2 linked regions of the Homo sapiens genome follow. The protein of the gene in region 1 interacts with the protein of each later gene in a pairwise test. Each region holds a gene or a part of one and is shown in the gene's direction. Other genes may lie near its edges. The genes, in order: ANXA4 and PADI4.

What was found.
Region 2: the proteins of ANXA4 (region 1) and PADI4 interact in binary tests that used the Homo sapiens proteins (3 or more experiments, as listed by UniProt).

Annotation. Positions count from the first base shown.
Region 1 is NC_000002.12:69,799,348-69,810,854, forward strand, and holds part of ANXA4 (annexin A4), read left to right. Parts: intron 1-4,045; exon of another isoform or gene 4,046-4,168; intron 4,169-5,185; coding exon 5,186-5,280; intron 5,281-7,037; coding exon 7,038-7,151; intron 7,152-8,558; coding exon 8,559-8,649; intron 8,650-11,246; coding exon 11,247-11,326; intron 11,327-11,507. UniProt on the Homo sapiens protein: Calcium/phospholipid-binding protein which promotes membrane fusion and is involved in exocytosis.
Region 2 is NC_000001.11:17,336,756-17,348,262, forward strand, and holds part of PADI4 (protein-arginine deiminase type-4), read left to right. Parts: intron 1-1,282; coding exon 1,283-1,400; intron 1,401-2,932; coding exon 2,933-3,058; intron 3,059-5,187; coding exon 5,188-5,366; intron 5,367-5,543; coding exon 5,544-5,647; intron 5,648-9,272; coding exon 9,273-9,384; intron 9,385-11,185; coding exon 11,186-11,293; intron 11,294-11,507. UniProt on the Homo sapiens protein: Catalyzes the citrullination/deimination of arginine residues of proteins such as histones, thereby playing a key role in histone code and regulation of stem cell maintenance.

The DNA of each region.
Region 1 (11,507 bases):
GGGGCCCATTGTATAAGTGTGAAGTTTGGCAATTACCCAGGAGACTTCCACCCCTTCTTCTGTGCTTGAGCTGTCTTATCTGTATTTTACAGCCTGAACTTTCAGGTTACTTGTTGTTAGAAGAGAAGTGATTTTTTTTAACTGTGTGTGGTTAGAAAGGGAGCTATTTTTGAGCTGCTTTTTGTTAAAAGGAAAGTTTTCTGCTGGGGACTCACTTTACCCTAAATGTCTACCTAAATAATTTCTTTTTGCCTCCTATAACACTGGTAGTGTCTTCCAGCATGCTACCCTCCAGTTAGCTCCTTGGGGGCCAACACCTTCATGCTGGGTAGGTACAGTGATTCTATGTGCACCACAAACTACCTGGCCTAGCCTCTGCCCCCAAGACCTTGTCTCAGTAGACTTTTGGCCAGAGAAGTATCCCCTGGTTCTTAGCTGCTATTTAGAATCTCCTTGAGATTTGGGTAAAAACACTTGACCATGAGACCATCTTTCTATCCAAAAAGAATTCATTTTACTCAGCCTCAATGTTGCTAACAGTAACAACAACCGTAGCAATAATAGAAAATGTTTATTAAGCTCTACTATGTGTCAGACATAGAGATAGATGCTTTCCATGGGTTATCTGTTTTAATCCTGACAGAAGCTTGTCTTACTGTTGAGAAGGTAAAGTATAGTGAGTGAGGCTGGCTGACTTGCCCACGGTCTCAGAACTATTAAGTGGTATATTCAGGATTCTAGATAATTCCTAGAACACTTTCCTTTCATCTTTGCATGATCAGCTGCCTCAAGTCTGATTCCAGAGCTGGAGTTCAAGCCACTGTTCTATGCTGCTGCCCATCTCTGAAGAGAACATTGTCCTGAATCTATGTATCTTCTTCTTTTCCCTTTTTCATAAAAAGAGAAAGGCATAGGACCCACCTTTTTTTTCAGTTTATCCTAATTCTTTGGTTACAAGGACACCATAATTCAAAATGTAGCCCATGTTACATTCAGAATTATCAGCATAAAGGGTGAGGAGACATTTGGCACAACCAACCCCTTTTCAGTGCCTGTTATGTGTGGGCCAATGCAAGGCAGACTGTTGGAGAAGACAAGGATTATAATCCCTAGTTCTTGTGTTCAAATAGTCTATGAATACTAGCACAGCTAAGGCATGCACAAAAATAACTATGATTAATTCATAATATAACAGTGACAGGAGGGGCACAAATAAGATCCCACTGGGGTTCAAAGAGAAGAGATCACATTTCACTTGGGGGCATCGGGCAAAGCTTCTTGGAGGATGTAGATGTTAAAATGGACCTTGGGAGATGATTGAGTTTCTGTAAACAGAATTAAGGGACAAGGTGTTTCAGGTGAATGGAATGGCATGTGCGGAGGTCTAGGGGAGTCATGGTAAATCCACAGAAAAGTGTCTTGCAGCAGTGAAGTGGCCTCGTCTGGGGTGACACCCATGGTTTGTTGTCTCACGGCCACAGATATCAAGGACGTAGACACACAAAGAGTGAGGTTAAGAGTGGAAGTTTAATAGGGAAAAGAAAGAGACTAGCTCTCTGCTACAGAGAGGGATTCCAGAAAAATGGGTTACCAATTCACGGTGAAATGCAGAGGGGTTTATAGATGAGCTGTGGCAGGCACTGGGGGTTGGGGGGCTGATGTCTGATCTACATAGGGCACCAAAAACCAGTTAGAAACAGGTGTGCTATCTGCATAGGGCATGAATCTCTGACAGTCCCTACCCCAGTCTTTTATTATGCAGGTGGGTTTTCAGCCTGAGCTGTACTGTATTGGTCATTTCTTTCTTACTGTACACATGCTAACAAAAAAGGGAAGGTGGAGTTTCCATGGTGGACATGCCTGGCCCCCAGGTAGCCCTTTTCTGTTGGTACAGCGGCCAGCATTCCCTTGTGCAAGCTTTCAGTTTCCTTATCTACGTTTGTAGCTTGATTTTTCAGGCTGCTCTTTGTTAGAAAAAAAAATGATTTTGGGGGCTGCTTTTTGTTACAAGGGAAGTTCTGCCAAGGACTCTTTTGCCCTCACTATCTGTTTTTTGTTTTTTTTTTCTTTTTTGAGATGGGGCCTCGCTCTGTCACTCAGGCTGTGGCATGCACTGGCATGATCTTGGCTCACTGCAACCTCCACCTCCCGGGTTCAAGTGATTCTCATGCCTCAGCCTCCTGAGTAGCTGGAATTACAGGCCCCCACCACCATACCTGGCTAACTTTTATATTTTAATAGAGACAAGGTTTTACCATGTTGGCCAGGCTGGTCTTGAACTCCTGACCTCAAGTGATCCACCCACCCCAGCCTCCCAAAGTGCTAGGATTACAGGCATGAGCTACCACACCCGACCTGCCCTCACTATCTGCTTAAACAATTTCTTTCTATCTCCTGTATCAGCAGGAGGTACTTGCAAAGCAGAAGTAGGCTGGTTGGGAGCTTTCTGAGAAAGCAGGTACCAGAAGGAGGTTTTAGGGGTGCTACTGAGAAAGCACCCATAAGAATCACAGACATGCGGGAATGACCCACAGGCACTGGCTGGGAAACAACATATGACAGAATCATGATGCTAAATGGAGGGGGTTAAGAGGACATATAAACCAATAGACTGGTAATGAAGGGGGTCAGGAGCCTGGAGTGCAGCACAGTTGGGTAAAGCACAATATTTCAAGAGCTGAGTCCATGAATTTGGCTGCCTAGTGTCCTTTTATGTGGCTATTTACAATAGTGAATGGGATACTGTAGAGAGTCTCAAATGTCAGGCTGCAGTGCCTAAAGTAAATCCAGCAGATGATGGGGAGCCATTGTGTATTTCTGAGCAGGGGAGAGACATTGTGAGAGTTTTTCTTTTTACAAAAATGAATCTGGCAAGACTCTGGGAAGACCAACCAGGAGTTAAGAATACTAGTTAGCAGACATCTGCACTTGTCTAAGAAGAAACCCTGAAATCTTGAATTGGAATGGTTGTGATAGGAAATAAAAAGAGTGAAAGAATGCAAAAGAGGCTGTAAAGCAACATTTTGCATGACCGTGGACTTGAATGAAGAGGAAAGGAGAGGGTAAAAAAATCAAAGCTATTGGGCTGGGTGCAGTGGCTCACGCCTGTAATCCCAGCACTTTGGGAGGCCTAGGTGGGCAGAGCACAAGGTCAAAAGATCGAGACCATTCTGGCCAACAAGGTGAAACCCCGTCTCTACTAAAAACACAAAAATTAGCTGGGCGTGGTGGCGTGCACCTGTAGTCCCAGCTACTGGGGAGGCTGAGGCAGGAGAATCGCTTGAACCCGGGAGGCAGAGGTTGCAGTGAGCCGAGATGGCACCACTGCACTACAGACTGGCCACAGAGCAAGACTCTGTCTCAAAAAAAAAAAAAAAAATTGAATCTATTTTGAGGATTTCAGCTTGGCTTGACTGGGGGGAAGAGTGATCCCTTTCACAGAAACAGGGAATGAACAAAAGGTAATGAACCCTCTCTGCCCCTTCCACACCCCCTCCTAGCTGAGAGTGCCAAGGGAGAAATTGATTGTTATATGGATTGTCCTCTCCTTTTTAAAAATAGGAACACGGCTGGGCATGATGGCTCATGCCTGTAATCTCAGCACTTTGGGAGGCTGAGGCAGGTGGATCGCCTGAGGTCAGGAGTTCAAGACCAGCCTGGTCAACATGGTGAAACCCATCTCTAGTAAAAAATACAAAAAAAAATTAGCCAGGCATGGTGGCAGGCACCTGTAATCCCAGCTACTAGGGAGGCTGAGGCAGGAGAATTGCTTGAACCTGGGAGGGAGAGGGAGTGAGCTGGACTGCACTCCAGCCCGGGTGACAGAGCGAAACTCCATCTCAAAAAAAGAAAAAAAAAAAAGGAACAGAAAGTAGGTCCCCAAGGTATGTAAACTTAAAGTTCTATAGCTTCCTCTCCACACCTCACATCTTTTTGCATCTCTAACCTTGCCAAGGATAACTAAAGTTTGGCTGTATTTTTTCATTTCTCCCTGAAATATTTTCAATAGAATCATTTCTGAAACCCATTCCAACCCCCCATACAGCACAAACAACGAGGAAACAGAAGATTCACCAAACATTTATGAACAGCCAGCTGTTATAAAGACAAGGGACCAATCTGAAAAATCAGAATAAAGTCTCCTTGTTAAAGCTGCTGCAAGAAACAGGCAAGCAAAACTTAGAACATTTTTAATTTGTAATTTTTGCTTAAAGTTTTGGTAAGATGTTGTATCATGGTAATTTGTCAGCAGTTCTAAAAGGGAACCATTTGTGTTCAGGAAAGATAGCTTAGAAGTGCAAAACATAGTTCCAGATTTTAAAACACAGTGAATGCAGTAACAGCCAACTTAAACTCTGCAAAATGCCAAATTGGTGAATTAACAGACAAGTTTGAATTGTTTCAAAACTCAGAGGAGATGATAAAAAGATAAAAACAAAAAAAAAGGCAAGAATATGGAAGAGAGAGAGAGGAGATTCAAAAGACATGAAAAGAATTCTAGAGGAGATGGCTGGGCGTGGTGTCTCACACATGTAACCCCAGCACTTTGGGAGGCCGAGGAGGGCAGATCATTTGAGGTCAGGAGCTCAAGACCAGCCTGGTCAACATAGTGAAACCCTGTCTCTACTAAAAACACAAAAATTCGCTGGGGGTGGTGGCACAGCCCTGTAATCCCAGCTACTCAGGAGGCTGAGGCAGGAGAATCGCTTGAACCCAGGAGGCGGAGGTTGCAGTGAGCTGAGATCGCGCCATTGCACTCCAGCCTGGGTGACAGAGTGAGACTTTCTCTCAAAAAAAAAAAAAAAAAAAAAATATTCTAGAGGAGAGAAAAAATTACTCCAGCCAACATTTATTAAATGTTTAGTAAGTGCTAGGCATTTAATTATATTAACACTTGCAGCAGCCTATCGAGGGAAATCACTGTCATCATTCACATTTGCAGATAAGGAAACTAATGTTTAGAAAGTTAACCATTTTCTTCAGTAGTAAACAGCTAATTAAAGGAGAGGCTAAGTCCCGAACCTAGCATCTGTTTCCCAAAAAGTAGACAAACCCTCTGAATAAGGGCCTCTTTTCTTAGAAAGCCCTCTGCATGTGTTTGGGTAACTCCAATGTCCACAGAGGAACCTGCTTTCTCATTCCTCTCTCAAATCACACTTACCTGCTGTCTCCCTTCTTCCCCCAGGCACCGATGAAGACGCCATTATTAGCGTCCTTGCCTACCGCAACACCGCCCAGCGCCAGGAGATCAGGACAGCCTACAAGAGCACCATCGGCAGGGTAGGCCACAGTCTTTCCTGCTCTGTCTGGCTGACTTCGCAGCAACAGGAAGCAGGGCCTCTTCCTGATCTAGGTTCCCGAAGTGACCTTGTGTTTTAAAAGATCGATCCTTTGTCTTGTTTAAAGATGTTCTTGAGGCCAGGTGTGGTGGGTCACACCTGTAATCCCAGCACTTTGGGAGACCGAGGTGGGTGGATCACTTGAGGCCAGGAGTTTGAGACCAACCTGGCCAACATGGTGAAACCCCATCTCTCCTTAAAAAATACAAAAATTAGCCGGGCATGGTGCTGAGCACCTGTAATCCTAGCTACTTTGTAGGTTGAGGCAGGAGAATTGCTTGAACCAGGAGGTGGAGGTTGCAGTGAGCCAAGATCATGCCACTTCACTCCAGCCTGGGCAACAGAGACAGACTCCATCTCAAAAAAAAAAAAAAAAAAAAAAAAAAGAATAGCGATTCAGCTCCTTCTTCGTCAATTGATCTTAAACAAGTTCTTAAACTCTCTGACCCATTCCAGGAGGAAATGTGAATAAACATCTTTAGAATTTGGTCCATTTTCCAAATAATTATATTTGGAAACTATATCTCAGGAATTGAGCCTTAAGAAATAGTCATGAATGATCACAAAGATACAACTAAATGCCTTATGTATATAACAGTAGAAAAATAGAAACAGGTGACTAGTTAAAGAAATTAGGCTGGGTGTGGTGGCTCACACCTGTAATCCTAGCACTTTGGGAGGCCGAGGCGAGTGGATCACTTGAGGTCAGGAGTTCGAGACCAGCCTGACCAACATGGTGAAACCCCGTCTCTACTAAAAATACAAAAAAATTAGCTGGGCATGGTGGTGGGCACCTGTAATCCCAGCTACTTGGGAGACTGAGGCAGGAGAATCGCTTGAATCCAGGAGGCGGAGTCTGCAGTGAGTCAAGATCGTGCCACTGCGCTCCAGCCTAGGCAACAGAGCAAGACTCCATCTAAAAAAAAAAAAAAAAGAAATTATGTTGCACCTATCTATAGAAATCTCCACAGCTGCTAAAAAGGTTATCAGTGAATATTGACTTGGAAGTATATTCAAGACATATTGTTAAGTAGGCAAATACATTTACATCGGTGTCTACAAACATATTCACCTCAAAGTTCCTTTACCTCTTAAATTTTTTAGGACTTTTGGTTTTGTGGGTTATATCTTTTGATATTTGCCCTATTAGAAACTAAAACTGAGGGCATTTAAAAATAGATATTTGTTAACTTAGTAAAAATAATAAGTATATTGTATGTTACTGTAAATAACATTTTAATGAAAAATAGCTATATATCCCAAAACGAAAAAACATTTAGTGAGAAGATTGGCATTGTTTTACATTTTGCAGATCTCTTTAATGTCTGGCTTAATGGAAGACAGATGGCTTCTCATATCTATTTCTACTTCAATTTGTTATGATATGTGGTTTTGGTTGGGGTATATGAAGAAAATCTGGCTTGTACAGATATGTACTTGAAAATGGGGGGAGTATTTGAACAGACAGTTGTTGATGCACAGACAATGTCAAATAGCCTTAGGAAAACCCCACTGTATGCTTGTGGAAGAATGACAGTGAAAAGGCAAATAACATCTGAGTGTTATTCTGAGGATAGTTTTGACTTGCAGGCCCCTTGAAAGGGTCTTGGAGACCCCAGACATCCCTGGACCACACCTGGAGAGTAGCTGGTCTAATTTGCTATAGCAGTTAAGCGGAGCTACTTTCTTGCATTGCAGGACTTGATAGACGACCTGAAGTCAGAACTGAGTGGCAACTTCGAGCAGGTGATTGTGGGGATGATGACGCCCACGGTGCTGTATGACGTGCAAGAGCTGCGAAGGGCCATGAAGGTCTGTGCTCTTCCTCTCGTGCTCTTGGTGCTGTTGGTGCAAACGCTGATGTGCTTTCTTAAGAAACTGTCACCCAATAAGAAAGACATGGAAGCAACCTAAACGCCCATCAATGGTAGACTGGATAAAGAAAATGTGGTACATGTACACCATGGAATAGCTGTAAAAAGGAACAAGATCATGTCCTCTGGAGGAACATGGATGGAGCTGGAGGTCATTGTCCTTAGCAAACTAAGGCAGGAACAGAAAATCAAATACCATATGTTTTCACTTACAAGTGGGAGCTAAATGATGAAAACACATGGACACATAGAGGGGAACAACACACACTGGGGCCTGTTGGAGGATGGAGGGTGGGAGGAGGGAGAGGATCAGGAAAAATAACTAATGGGTACTAGGCTTAATACCTGGGTAATGAAATAATCTGTACAACAAACCCCCATGACACAAGTTTATCTATATAACAAACCTGCACATGTACCCCTGCACTTAAAGTAAAAGTTAAATTTTTTTAAAAAAGAAAGAAACTATGACCAAGGCCTTCTGAGAGTAGCAGGTGTAAAGTATAGGAGATTTTCCTTCATTTACGACAACTTGAAAACATCATTACTTTACATTATACCAATTATAATTTAAAAGTTCTTTTCCAAAAAGTTAGGGAATCATTTGCTCCTTCCTGTGGCTCAATGGGGAGTGATTATAATTGTCGCTTTTAGTACAGCTCTAGAGACTTTTAGCTATCTCTAGACAGCTAACTACTTTTGAGATATGTAACTTTATGACTGACACTTTAGGGGCCTCCAGGTCTACTATAGGCTTACTTCTGGCAAAAGAGTTCCTGGCTTCCCTAGATGACGTACCCACTGTGCCCTAGCCTGGTCTGCCAAATTTTAATGACCAAGTATGTAATGCAAATATAAATGGTCCCCACCTTAGGATGGTTCTACTTAAAAATTTTCAGTGTATTGTACTCCTCATCATAAGTCGAGGAGTACAATTATCCTCCTCAACCATGTCAATAAATACTCAGACTTGTGGAAGGTTCTGGGCCAGGCTCTGGGAAAGCAAAGAGGTGACAAAGTCTTTGCCAGAAAATTCTGCCCTTCAGAGGAAGAGAGCAGAAGAGGTCAAGGAAAAATTAAGTCCCCAGAGGGCAGAAACCATACCTACCCGGGCACAGTAACGAACACATAATAAACAGCCTAGAAATGTTTGTTATTACTCATAATTGTTACGGCAAACACTTTGGGTTTCGGGTGGGACAATAAAAGTGAACAAACCCTGTTGTTAGAACGCAGTGGATTGTCTTTATTCTCTGCAGATTCATGACAGATGTATTCCTTCTGTGTCTGGGCCTCAGCTTTGTAAACTGGCTCATATAGCCCTGTCCTCTGGTTTCTTGTTTAGGGAGCCGGCACTGATGAGGGCTGCCTAATTGAGATCCTGGCCTCCCGGACCCCTGAGGAGATCCGGCGCATAAGCCAAACCTACCAGCAGCGTACGTGACATCCGCAGTGGCCCTGGCTGAGGTTTCGCTGTGATTAGAGAATGAGGGTAGCAGCGGGTTGTTGTTTGCTGATTAGACTTTTCACAGAACGCTGAGCATGAGGGATCCTCGGTGCCAAGCTCTGCTTCGAGGGAGATCCCTGTTTAGCCAAATGGCGGTCTGTTGGCTCCTTAAGATTTCTCAGGTGAAGATGACACTCTATTTTGCCTACCCAGTGCAGTATTTTATTACCCTAAAAGTTGGAAAGTTGTTCCTTATTATCAGACAAAGAATCTAAGGTACTTGTTCAAAAGTGGTGGCACCAGCAGATCTTAGCATTCCAAGGAATGGTCTGGAGGGGCCGTCTGGCCCAAATTCTTCCCTTCAGACTGGACTGTACGTCCTCCAGCCAAATCAGAATGACAGCCATTCACTCCCCCTTAGAGACCTCCAGAGGGTGATACGTATGAAGTGCCTTTAAAAAATGCCTGACTTTTTGCCCTAAGAATATAACTAAAAATGCACAGAGGTTCAGATCTCACAGTGTTTATTCAGCATTGTCTACATTAGCTAAAAATGCCCAAGAGTAGCAGATTGTCTAAACAAAATATTATACACTTACACAATGAACTATTATGTAGTCATTAAAACTTATATTAAAGAGTATTTTTTTCTTTTATTTAGCCTTTTTTTTTGAGACAGGGTCTCACTCTGTTGCCCAGGCTGGAATGCAATGGCCCCATCATAGCTCACTGCAACCTCGACCTCCTGGGCTTCAGCAACCCACCCACTGCAGCCTTCTGAGTAGCTGGGACCACAGGTGTGCGCCACCACACCCAGCTAATTTTTGTATTTTTTGTAGAGATGGGGTTTCGCCATGCTGCCCAGGCTGGTCTCAAACTCCTGGGCCCAAGCAATCTGCCCACCTCCGCCTCCCGAAGTGCTGGGATTACAGATGTGAGCCACTACACCTGGCCAAGAATACTATTAAAATATTTATTAAATGGTTTGGTATATGTAAGTGAAAAAGACAAGCCATAAAATAGTATGCTATGATCCCATTTTTAAAAAATTAACACAGTTAATAACACAGTATTTTTTAAATAAATGAAAATAATTTGTGCATGTGGGGGAAAATGAGGAAGGATATTTACAGAAATGTTGTCAATGATTCTTATTTCTGGGTGATTAGACTGCAGTGGAGTTCCTCGCCTTGCCCCTTCTTTTTACTTATTTGTTTTTTCCTAAGCCTTCTGTGGTCAACATGTGTTACCTTTATAGAAAGAAAACAACCACAATAAGAGCTTTGTGGGAAGTGTTCAGAGCAGGAGATTCTAAACCTTAGGAGTCTGGATTTAGCAACCCAATCCCCACATCTGCCCAATGAGGGTTTTCTTCCCTGAGGGCTGTGAAGGGCTGGAGCTTCTCTTTTCGTTTTTGCTTTTTAAAAATTAATTATGAAGAAGTGATTTTTAATTTCTTGCTGAAGCTCCCCCTGCCTATTTTTTTTGACACAGGATCTCGCTCTGTGGCCCAGGCTGGAGTGCAGTGGCATGGTCATGGCTCACTGCAGCCTTGACCTCCCCAGGCTGAGATGATCCTCCCACCTCAGCCTCCCCTGTAGCTGGTACTACAAGCATGCGCCAACATACCCAGCTAATTTTTGTATTTTTTGTAGAGATGGGGGTTCACCATGTTGCCCAGGCTGGTCTCGAACTCCTGGATTCAAGCAGTCTGCCCTCCTCAGCCTCCCAAAGTGTTAGGATTACAGGCATGAGCCACTGCGCTCGGCCGTGGAGCTTCTCATGGATAACCTGTCAGAACCTCCCAAGTGAGAGACGTGGCAGAGAGGCATATGCTAGGATTTGCATTTGACAGCGCTCCAACCCCAGCCCCACCTCAAAGCTGGGTTCAGAAGCTCCTATCTGGTTGCTTTCCATCAGTGAAGCAGCAGAGGCTGCTCCACAGCTGTGGTTCCCTCTGTGTCACTGAGAACCACGTTCAGATCGGACCCCTGGGTGGCAGGAAGCACAGAGGGAGGATTTCAGACCCAGCTTTTTCAACCCCACATTTTAAGAAACAGGAATATCTTGGCTGGGTGCGGTGGCTCACGCCTACAATCCCAGAACTTTGGGAGGCCAAGGCAGGCGGATCACCTGAGGTCAGGAGTTCACGACCAGCCTGGCCAAAATGACAGAACCCTGTCTGTACTAAAAATACAAAAATTAGCTGGGCATAGTGGGGCACACCTGTAATCCCAGCTACTTGGGAGGCTGAGGCAGGAGAATTGCATGAACCCAGGAGGCAGAGGTTGCAGTGAGCTGAGATGGTGCCACTGCACTCCAGACTCCATCCAGCCTGGGCAACAGAATGAGACTCCATCTCAAAAGAAACAAAACAAAAACAGGAATATCGTGTGACAGGATAAGCTGATCTTGACCATTTTACCAGAGTTTAGTTTTTGAAAAACTGTGTGTGGGGTGAAAAAACCTCATGATAAGCTGCTTCCATAAGCAGGCTGGTCTTGAGGGGACAGATTGCTCTGGAGTGTGACAGGGCATTGGGCAAGACTCTTAATTCTGAAGTAGCTAATTTCACTCTCTTGCTAGAATATGGACGGAGCCTTGAAGATGACATTCGCTCTGACACATCGTTCATGTTCCAGCGAGTGCTGGTGTCTCTGTCAGCTGTGAGTGACTGCTTCTGATGGGGGGCGGGTTTTATCGAAATGTCCACTCTATCCCCTTTGCCAGCCTTTCTCATCCTTTCAGCCCCTGACATGTGGATATTCCCCAGGTAGTGTTCTCAGACCCCTCTGTTCCTTTATCTTATTTCTCCTTCAGAGACTCTGGCTAATCCTGCCTGCCCAT
Region 2 (11,507 bases), on another chromosome or scaffold:
CCTGCACCATTTTATGCTGGTGTGCACTGGGGGCTGTGCCCTGTAAAAAGATGAAGATCCTTTGTGGGGTCAGCAAAAGTGGGAAGACAAATTACAACTCTAGGAGTAGAATCTGTCCCTGTATCCCTCCCGAAATGCAGTCATTTCCCAGGGGCAAACGCTCTCCCGCGAAGGGAGGCGCCATCACTATTAGATCCCTACAGGGTGGGGCTGCTTAATGTGCTTTAATCTCTAGGCAGATATTAACTGGCTGCTAAGAATAGTACCACACTTTGCTGAATGAGTAATTAAGAGTTCACATAATAGTAACTATTTAGATTAGAATATTGACATACATATTTAGCTGCATTTGGTTTGTCAAGCTCAACATTTTATTTATTTATTTATGTATTTATGTATTTATTTATTTATTTATTGAGATGGAGTCATGCTCTGTCTCCCAGGCTGGAGTGCAGGGGCGGTTCACCGCAACCTCCGCCTCCCAGGTTCAAGTGATTCTCCTACCTCAGCCTCCTGAGTAGCTGCAATTACAGGTGCATGCCTCCACGCCCAGCTAATTTTTGTATTTTTAGTAGAGACAGCGTTTCGCCATGTTGGCCAGGCTGGTCTTGAACTCCTGACCTCAGGTGATCTGCCTGCCTCAGCCTCCCAAAGTGCTGGGATTACAGGTGTGAGCCACTGCGCCCAGCCAACATTTCTTAAAAGCTGTTAAAATCCATGTGACTGTCTTGGGCTCCTTTTTTTAAATGGATGAATTGTGTTTTGGGTGAATTTGGTTGTGACTTTTGGAGTAAAAGGCAAAAATCCACTCCTGAGATCAAATAATTAATTGATGTGGAAGCAAGATGTGTAAACTGCACTGGGTTAAAGAAGTGATGGGGGCCGGGCGTGGTGGCTCATGCCTGTAATCCCAGCACTTTGGGAGGCCGAGGAGGATGGATCATGAGGTCAAGAGATTGAGCCATCCTGGCCAACATGGTGAAATCCCATCTCTACTAAAAATACAAAAATTAGCCAGGTGTGGTGGCATGCGCCTATAGTACCAGCTACTCAGGAGGCTGAGGCAGGAGAATCACTTCAACCTGGGGGGTGGAGGTTGCAGTGAGCCAAGATCACGCCACTGCACTCCAGCCTGGCAGCAGAGGGAGACTCCGTCTCAAAAAAATAATAAATAAATAAATAAATTTTAAAAAAGAGGTGATGGGGAGTTGCTATGCCTCTTGCAAGAGTTGGAGGGCTCTATGCTAGTTTCTGAGCATGACTCTTCCCTGCTGGTGTCCAGAGGACCTGGACCTGGGGCCCTTGTGGACAGGGTGCCATCCTGCTGGTGAACTGTGACAGAGACAATCTCGAATCTTCTGCCATGGACTGCGAGGATGATGAAGTGCTTGACAGCGAAGGTAAAGAGCATTTGCTAGCTAACGGGAAGGGCTTTTTATAAAGCCCTTTTGCCCACATAGCCTGAACCTGGTGACGGCCCTCTGAAATAAGGGTTATTGAAAGCATCTTCTTGTTGGCAAATCTGTTTTATAGGTGAAGCAATGGGCAAAGGCCCTCGGGGGTCAAGTGACCTCCCCAAGCTCACGCAGCGGTCAGGGAAGAGCTGAGGCCAGTGCTGTCTCCTGATGCCTCCTACAGGCCCTGGTTTCCATGCCTCACCCTGCTGCCCAACCTAAACGCTCTTAGGTCAAACCTGGAGCCTGAAATCCTTCGAAATGAAAGCTTTTCATTCCCAAACTCATATCAGAGCAGGCCCTGAGACCTCTGCCATAGGCCGGGCACGACTCTGACCACTTTGGAATGATTAACTCATCTGATCTTCCAACACAAACCTTTATAGGTAGGAAAACCAAGGCACGGGGAACTTAAGCAATTTGCCCAAGGTCACAGCACTGACACGTAGCAGACTCGGGGTTTGAACCCCGGACGTCCCAACACCGGAGCAGGTTTAGAGGCATGAGGATGGTGGGGAATGCAGGATCTCTGCAGGCAAACCTCTGGGCTGCTAAGGGGGTGGCTCCGGGGTTGAAGTGAGGAAACATTATCCACCTGCGCTGGAGGAAGGTGCTAAGGGGCTCTGGCTGGCAGGCCTTCCTGGGGAGCTCTTAGAATAACATAGAAATGGATGTATTTTCAAGTTGCATGTAGTTGGCCTGGCCCGATGCCAGGGGACAGCCTCTGTACAGTGCCTGACATGCGGTAATAATCACAACAGCTGTCCTTTGTGGGCACTCCCGGGGTGCCAAGAGCTGGTATAAGCACTGTGTATCACCTGACTTTATCTTCACAACCATTCTACGGTGGGTACAACTCTTGCCCCTGTCTTAGTGATGAGGAAACAGAGGCAGAGAAAGCTGAAATCCGTTTCCTAAGCCCACCCAGATCCCAGATTCAAACCAAATTGACCGCAAAGCCTTTAAGCCCTTGGCTATCAGTCAGTCCCTTGGGAACCATCTCTTCACTCTCCCCACCCTCTACCCCTTCTTGGCTATTGTTCAAGTTGGTTCACAAACCCCACTTCTTGCTCAGGACCAGCACAGAAACCTTTCACTCGTTCATTGCACAAATCTCAGCCGAGCGCCTGCCGCCTGCTGGTCATTGTTCTAGGGAGTTCTCGGCTTTCTAGGTTCAAGATTCAGGGAACGTTGCAAGGAGCAAAATATTAATAAATGTGGTCCCCGCTTTGCTGAGGTTACATCCCCAGCTCATCCTAGTGGGAGGAGACCAAAACCTTAATGAGCTCTCATTCCAAAATGAAAACCATCATTTAAATACTCAAAATAGCATAAAGAAAAGAAAACCAGGCAACATGGTAAAGGGAGGTCTCAGGGGAGCGGTGGGGTGTGAGGCTCCACCAGGAGGTGAGGTGGCTATGGGAAACCAGCAGCGGTCTCAGGGCCCTGTGACTCAGGCAATGCCCTTCTCATCCCAGACCTGCAGGACATGTCGCTGATGACCCTGAGCACGAAGACCCCCAAGGACTTCTTCACAAACCATACACTGGTGCTCCACGTGGCCAGGTCTGAGATGGACAAAGTGAGGGTGTTTCAGGCCACACGTAAGTCATCCCCATCTTTGTTCCCCTCCTGCCCTGGCCAACGGGGCACAATCCTGTCACACAGCTGTGTGGCAGATAAATCCTGAGCACCTACTATGTGCCAAGTTCTAAGAACAGCAGACGCAGCAGTGGGCAAGACAGACGACATCTCGTCTACTACCTTCCAGTTGGAGGACACAGACAAAATGACTCGTTATTGCTCCCTGCTTTTCTTTCTCTCTCTCTCACACACGCGCGCGCACACACACACACACACACACACACACCTCCTGGTTATAGACTTTGAGTGCAAGCTGACAGCATGTGGCATGTAATCATTTGTTCTGCAACATCCTGCTAATCAGAGACATCAGGAACTTCTCAGTGACCCACGAGCACCTGCAACTAAGTAGGTGCCAGGTTGATCCCAGGCACGGGGCACAGAGCCATGACTGTGACCGAGTCCCTGCCCTCGTGTTGCTTTCATCTTAGTGGCTGGGAGAACTATAGGTAAAATAATTACATAAAACACCTAGTGTGTCCAACGCTGTGACATGCTATGTAGAAGAATGCGGCAGGGAAGGGGATGTGGAGTGAGGAGTGGAGTTCGGGTTGTGTGGAGAGAGGGTGGCCAGGGAAGGTGTCCCCCATGAGGTGCCATGTGAGCAGAGGGAGGTATAGGAACAGCCAGACAGACACCTAGGGGAAGGGCGTTCCAGGCAGAGGGAACGGCAAGTGCGTGGGCCCTGAGGTGAGATCATGCCTGTGGTTTGGAGGAATGCAGGGAGGCTAGTGCAGCTGGGGCGGAATGTGCAAGGGTTAAAGTGGGGGATGAGGGTGGAAGAGACAGGGCAGAGGGGAAGGGGGAGGTCAGGTAGGCGTATATTGACTTTGGCTTCTGGATGGAAGGAGATGGAGAGCGCCATGGGAGGGTTTTTTTTTTGCATGGGCCTGACAATCATTCTGATCCTGATCATTCTGCCTGGTCTATTCCAAGCTTTTTTTTTTTTTTTTTAATTTTTTTTTTTGAGAGAGTCTCACTCTGTTGCCCCGGCTGGAGTGCAGTGGTGCCATCTTGGCTCACTGCAGCCTCCACCTCCTGGGTTCCAGAGATTCTCCTGTCTCAGCCTCCCCAGTAGCTGAGGTTACAAGCATGTGCCACCACATCCAGCTAATTTTTGTATTTTTAGTAGAGATGGGATTTCACCAGGTTGGCCAGACAGGTCTCGAACTCCTGACCTCAAATGATCCACTTGCCTCAGCCTCCCCAAGCACTAGGATTACAGACACCATGCCCAGCCTCTGTTTCTTTTTTTTTTTTTTTTGAGATGGAGTCTCTCTCTGTCGCCAGGCTGGAGTGCAGTGGCGCAATCTCAACTCACTGCAACCTCCACCTCCTGGGTTCAAGCAATTCTCCTGCCTCAGCCTCCCGAGTAGCTGTGATTATAGGCATCCACCACAATGCCTGGCTAATTTTTTTGTGTTTTTAGTAGAGATGGGCTTTCACCATGTTGGCCAGGCTGGTCTGGATCTCCTGACCTTGTGATCCTCCTGCCTCGGCCTCCCAAAGTGCTGGGATTACAGGCGTAAGCCACCACACCCGGCCTGTTTCATTCTTAAAGTGATTAAACTGACACTGATTTGGTGACAGGTCAACTTATTGCCTCCACCCAGGCATCACCTCCTCCAGGAAGTTCTCAGGGATTCCCTCTATCACAGCTGTCTGCTATTTTCATGATCTCTGCTTCTCCCTACTCACCCGTAAGACTGTGCACTCTCTGGGGGTGAGGATAGGAGGACAGTGACTCTGTCTCCCTGGTCCCCTGCTGTGCCCCTGTCCCCCGCTGACATCTGGCTAGAGCAGATGCTCAGGAATGAGTGAAGGAATGGTGTATACTGGACTTCCTATAAAGTTTGGAATAGCTCAGGCACCCCTGCCACACCCTTCTGGGACTTCAGCCGGGGAGCAGCGTCCCAGCTAGAACTTCAGTCCTTTTCTCCTAAGGGGACTGGCCAGATTTGGCTGCAAGGGGTTCTCTGATGGTGCCATGTGGTGACCCTGGGAAAGGCTTCTGGGGAGCACTAAGGAGAGGAGGAAAAGTCTTCAGAAGTGGGGACGCAGACCTGAGTCTCCCCTGCCTCTCTCCTAGGGGGCAAACTGTCCTCCAAGTGCAGCGTAGTCTTGGGTCCCAAGTGGCCCTCTCACTACCTGATGGTCCCCGGTGGAAAGCACAACATGGACTTCTACGTGGAGGCCCTCGCTTTCCCGGACACCGACTTCCCGGGGCTCATTACCCTCACCATCTCCCTGCTGGACACGTCCAACCTGGTAGGCCGAGAAGGCAGCCCTGCATCGGGGGCCTGGGCTTCCAGGCAGTGGCCTGGCTAGGGAAAGGGGTACAGAGCCCAGCTGGGCAGGGGGACTCCAAACAGCTGCAGGAAGTGGTAGGTGCTGGGCCCTGGCAGCGGTGACAGCCCCTCCTTCCCCTTACCCCCTCCCCTGCAGGAGCTCCCCGAGGCTGTGGTGTTCCAAGACAGCGTGGTCTTCCGCGTGGCGCCCTGGATCATGACCCCCAACACCCAGCCCCCGCAGGAGGTGTACGCGTGCAGGTGAGAGGTCCTGGGGTGCTGGGGTGGGTCCAGACAACAAAGAGCCTGAGTTCCATCCGCAGCACTCACTGTGTGATGGGAAAAACAGTCACCCCTCCCCTGCCCACTGAGAGCTTGCTGCTTGTTGGGGGCTCTAAAAAGGCAGGGAAGTTCCCTACTGTTGTTGTCATTGCCTCTGTCCTGCCCTGATGCAGCTGAGGCTACGTTAACTCCCAGGGGCCTGTAGAGTGTGTCCCATGGACCTTGTGCACCAGAAACTCCTGGGAACTCATTTAAAATGCACCTTTCTGGGCTGGGCACGGTGGCTCACGCCTGTAATCCTAGCACTTTGGGAGGCTGAGGCAGGTGGATCACTTAAGGTCAGAAGTTTGAGATCAGCCCAGCCAACATGGTGAAACCCTGTCTCTACTAAAAAATACAAAAATTGGCCGGGCGTGGTGGCGCATGCCTGTAATCCAGCTACTCAGGAGGCCGAGGCACGAGAATTGCTTGAACCCTGGAGGCGGAGGTTGCAGTGAGCTGAGATTGCGCCACTGCGCTCCAGCCTGGGCAACACAGTGAGACTCCATCTCAAAAATAAAATAACCAGCCTGGCCAACATGGTGAAACCCCGTCTCTACTAAAAATACAAAAAATTAGCCAGGTGTTGTGGCATGTGCCTGTAATCCCAGCTACTCGGGAGGCTGAGGCAGGAGAATCACTTGAACCCAGGAGGCCAAGGTTGCAGTGAGCCGAGATTGCACCATTGCACTCTAGCCTGGGCGACAGAGCAAGACTCCGTCTTGAGAAAATTAAAAATAATAAAAATTAAAAATTAAATTAAATTAAATTAAATTTAAATTAAATAAAATGCACCTTTCTGGCTGCCTGTGAGCTGCTGGGTCTTATCCCTGAGGACGGGGCCCATCTGCATTTTGGGGAGGCCCAGGCAATCTTCCTGCAGTCTGAGAGCCGCTGACAAGTGTGCTGGGGTCTCAGGAGACCCTCTCCTCCCCTCTTCTGATAGCTTCAGGGGCAGAAGAGTAAGAGGGTAATGTGGTCAGGACGCAGGCTGGAATCCAGTGAGGACTGTATTCCGGTCCCAGCACTGTTCCAGGTGGTGTGACCTTGAACAGTGAACTCATATTCTGTCTTCTCCCAAGTTGATATGGTTTGGCTCTGTGTCTCCACCCAAATCTTATCTTGAATTGTACTCCCACAATTCCCACGTGTTCTGGGAGGGACCTGGTGGGAGATAATTTGAATCATGGAGGTGGTTTGCCCCATACCATTCTCATGGTAGTGAATAAGTCTCATGAGATCTGATGGTTTTATCAGGGGTTTCCACTTTTGCATCTTGCTCATTTTCTCTTGCCGCCGCCATGTAAGAAGTGCCTTTTGCCTCCCACCATGGTGTCCCCAGCCATGTGGGAGTGTAAGTCCAATTAAACCTCTTTTCCTTCCTAGTCTCAGGTATGTTTTTATCAGCAGCGTGAAAATGGACTAATACAGTAAATTGATACCAGTAGAGGGGGGCGTTGCTGAAAAGATACCCAAAATGTGGAAGCAACTTTGGAACTGGGTAACAGACAGAGGTTGGAACGGTTTGGAGGGCTCAGAGGAAGACAGGAAAATGTGGGAAAGTTTGGAACTTTCTAGAGACTTGTTGAATGGCTTTGACAAAAATACTGATAATGATATGAACAATGAAATCCAGACTGAGATGGTCTCAGATGGAGATGAGGAACTTGTTGGGAACCGGAGCAAAGGTGACTCTTGTTATGTTTTAGCAAAGAGACTGGTGGCATTTTGTACCTGCCCTAGAGATTTGTGGAACTTTGAACTTGAGAGAGATGATTTAGGGTATCTGGCAGAAGAAATTTCTAAGCAGCAAGGCATTCAAGAGGTGACTTGGGTGCTGTTAAAGGCATCCAGTTTTAAAAGGGAAGCAGAGCATAAAAGTTCAGAAAAGTTGCAGCCTGACAATGCAATCGAAAAGAAAATCTCATTTTCTGAGGAGAAATTCAAGCCAGCTGCAGAAATTTGCATAAGTAACAAGGAGATTAATGTTAAGCCACAAGGCAATGAGGAAAATGTCTCCAGGGCATGTCAGAGGTCTTCATGGCAGCCCCTCCCGTCACAGGCCCAGAGGCCTAGGAGAAAATGGTTTCGTAGGCCAGGCCCAGGGTCCCCATGCTATGTGCAGCCTAGGGACTTGGTGCCCTGCATCCCAGCTGCTCCAGCCATGGCTAAAAGGGGCCAGTGTAGAGCTCAGGCTGTGGCTTCAGAGGGTGGAAGCCCCAAGCCTTGGCAGCTTCCACATGGTGTTGAGCCTGCAAGTGCACAGAAGTCAAGAATTGGGGTTTGGGAACCTCTGCCTTGATTTCCAAAGATGTGTGGAAACGCCTAGATGCCCAGGCAGAAGTTTGCTGCAGGGGTGGTGTTCTCATGGAAAACCTCTGCTACAGCAGTGCAGAGGGGAAATGTTGGTTTGGAGCCCCCACACAGAGTCCCTACTGGGACACCACGTAGTGGAGTTGTGAGAAGAGGGCCACTGTCCTCCAGACTCCAGAAGGGTAGATCCACTGACAGCTTGCACCGTGTGCCTGGAAAAGCCACAGACACTCAACACCAGCCTGTGAAACTGGCCTACCAGGAGGGAGGCTATACCCTGCAAAGCCACAGGGGCAGAGCTGCCTAAGACCATGGGAACCCACCTCTTGTGTCAGCATGACCTGGATGTGAGACCTGGAGTCAAAGATCATTTTGGAGCTTTAAAATTTGACTGCCCTGCTGGATTTTGGACTTGCATGGGCCCTGTAACCCCCTTGTTTTGGCCAATTTCTCCCATTTGGAATGGTTGTATTTACCCAACACCTGTACCCCCATTGTATCTAGGAAGTAACTAGCTTGCTTTTGATTTTACAGGCTCATAGGAGGAAGGGACTTGCCCTGTCTCAGATGAGATTTTGGATTGTGAACTTTTGGGTTAATGCTGAAATGAGTTAAGACTTTGGGGGACTGTTGGGAAGGCATGATTGGTTTTGAAATGTGAGGATATAGGATTTGGAGGGGCCAGGGGCAGGATGATATGCTTTGGTTCTGTGTCCCCACCCAAATCTCATCTTGACATGTACTCCCATAATTCCCAAGTGTTGTGGGAGGGACCCAGTGGGAGATAATTTGAATCATGGTGGCAGTTTCTCCCATACTGTTCTCATGATAGTGAATAAGTCTCATGAGATCTGATGGTTTTATCAGGTTTTTCTCCTTTTTCTTCTTCCTCATTTTCTCTTGCCACCGCCATGTAAGAAGTGCCTTTTGCCTCCCACCATGGCCTCCCCAGCCATGTGGAACTGTAAGTCCAATTAAACCTCTTTTTCTTCCCAGTCTCAAGTATGTCTTTATCAGCAGCGTGAAAACGGACTAATACACGGGTGGAAGGGGTACCCACTAGTTCCTGCCTCATAACTTGTTAGATGGATTCCATGAGCTAATGCCTGCTAAGAGCAGATGGACCGGACGTGCCAGGAGCCTCTGTTCAGGCCACAGGTGACCCCTGAGCCACCTGTGTGTCCCTCCCAATCCTTCCAGGCTGAGCTTCAAATTCCAGAGCACTAAGGAGCTGCTTTTCTGCTCTCTCTAGTATTTTTGAAAATGAGGACTTCCTGAAGTCAGTGACTACTCTGGCCATGAAAGCCAAGTGCAAGCTGACCATCTGCCCTGAGGAGGAGAACATGGATGACCAGTGGATGCAGGTATGTGCCCTGCGGGGCAGGCAGGGTGACTGTCCCTGAGGGCCAAGAGACACTTGGGGGACCCGGGCTCCTGGGGTTCAGCCTGGTGCCTCACCGGCCACTCTTCCTTAGATGGACAGGGAGATAGGAACCTGAGAGATCCTTGGGCCGGGAGGCTCAAGCAAGTGATTCATCTGACGTTTGCTGTGGGCCACTGCAGGCCCACTGCAGTCACCAAGATGAAGCCACCTTCCTGCTTGAAAACACTCAGGTGGCCTCAGGAAATGATGTGAAGCTCAGGAGATTGGTGCTCAACCAGCCCCTCAAGTGGTCCTCCCTCCAGGCTGTCCATCTTGGGCCCAGCCACCAAAGCAGGTCACACCCCAGCTCCAGCACTTTCCATGGCTCCCATCTCCTCCTGCTTAGTCTGTTTCCAGGCCCTCTCAGCCTGCCTGGTTCCCTTCCCTGGGGCCAGCCTGCCACTGTGCCTGGAAACACATGATTACCAGTCTCTGTTTCCGTGCCACTCCCCCATCATGCCAGGAGTGCCCCAAGGACTGAGACTGGGCCTCATCCAGCCTAGCACCCTGACCCTCCCCACCACTGCCTTGCTTTGCCTCGGGACCCTGTCCTTCCATGCCGCACCCCTGCGGTGCTGTCTCTTGGACCCATCTCCCCATTCCCATCCCCCATCTCCAATCCATACCGGTGAATCCCAGCACAAATGCTCCTCGTCCATAAATTTCCCCCATCACCCCCAGCAGGAATTCATCCCTCTTTCTTTTCACCCCCACACAACATCCTTTCTTCCTTTCTTGCCATTCCATCTTTTCTTTTCTTTTTTTTTTCACTCTTGTTGCCCAGGCTGGAGTGCAATGGCTCGATCTCGGCTCATCACAACCTCTGCCTCCCGGGTTCAAATGATTCTCCTGCCTCAGCCTCCTGAGTAGCTGTAATTACAGGCATGTGCCACCACGCCTGGCTAATTTTGTATTTTTAGTAGAGATGGGGTTTCTCCGTGTTGGTCAGGCTGGTCTCGAACTCCTGACCTCAGGTGATCCACCCACCTCAGCCTCCCAAAGTGCTGGGCTTACAGGCATGAGTTACTGCACCTGGCCGCCATTCCATTTTTTTGATACCAAGTTGACCTGTGTGAAATTGCTGATATGTGCCATTTTTGATTTGCAAGAGTGGAACTTTCATCTGGTTCATCCTAATAGTAACTTATAGTAGTGATTATGTCCAACATCACACCTGCCTGCTAGAATACAAGCCTGCGGAGGCGGAATTTTCAGCAGATTCATTTCTGAAACCTCCCCGTGCTCCTCCTGCTGCTCCAGTGGCCCAGGCTGGGTCTTATCTGCCCTCCTTTGGGGAGGAGGCCGCGAGCTCTGGCGCCAACAGGTCTTCTCTGGCCCATCCTAGCTGCATCAGGAGCCCCTCCTCTGTGTCCCCACAGACCCCTCAACCCCTCACCCCCCATCACCTCCTAACCCTGGTGCCCACTGCCTGGCTCCCTTGTTTTCTCACCTTGAGGAGGGGTCTCAGTTTTGCTCACCAGGGGTCCCCAGCACTGGCCCAGGCACCACCAGGAGTAGGAGGGAAGGGCACTCCTGCAGGCTCATGGCCTCTCGTGCACTGGGCAAACAGGGGGCAATAAGCTCCGCTTCTGAGCCCCTTCTCTGAGATCAAACATCCCATAGGAATGTGCCCTTGACTGCAAGGGTGAGAGTGAGTGGATGGTTTCATGCCCCCATCCTGGCGTCGGGCACCAAGACCCAGGCAGCACGCGCAACAGCCTCCTCTCCACTCACTCCCACAGGATGAAATGGAGATCGGCTACATCCAAGCCCCACACAAAACGCTGCCCGTGGTCTTCGACTCTCCAAGGAACAGAGGCCTGAAGGAGTTTCCCATCAAACGCGTGATGGTACCTGCATGGGGTGGGGAGGGGGCACAGCTGCCGAAACCCTCTTGTCTTGAGACTCCCTCCTTTTAGCCTGCCTTCCCCGCCCGCGCCTGTAGCTGAGTAGCCCAGTGCAAGGAGGTGGAATTCCTACCAAAGTGGGAGCATGTAGGTGGGGCTTGTTATTTTTTTATTACCAAGATAAGATCTGGCTCTTCATTTCCCAAAACCCTTGTCA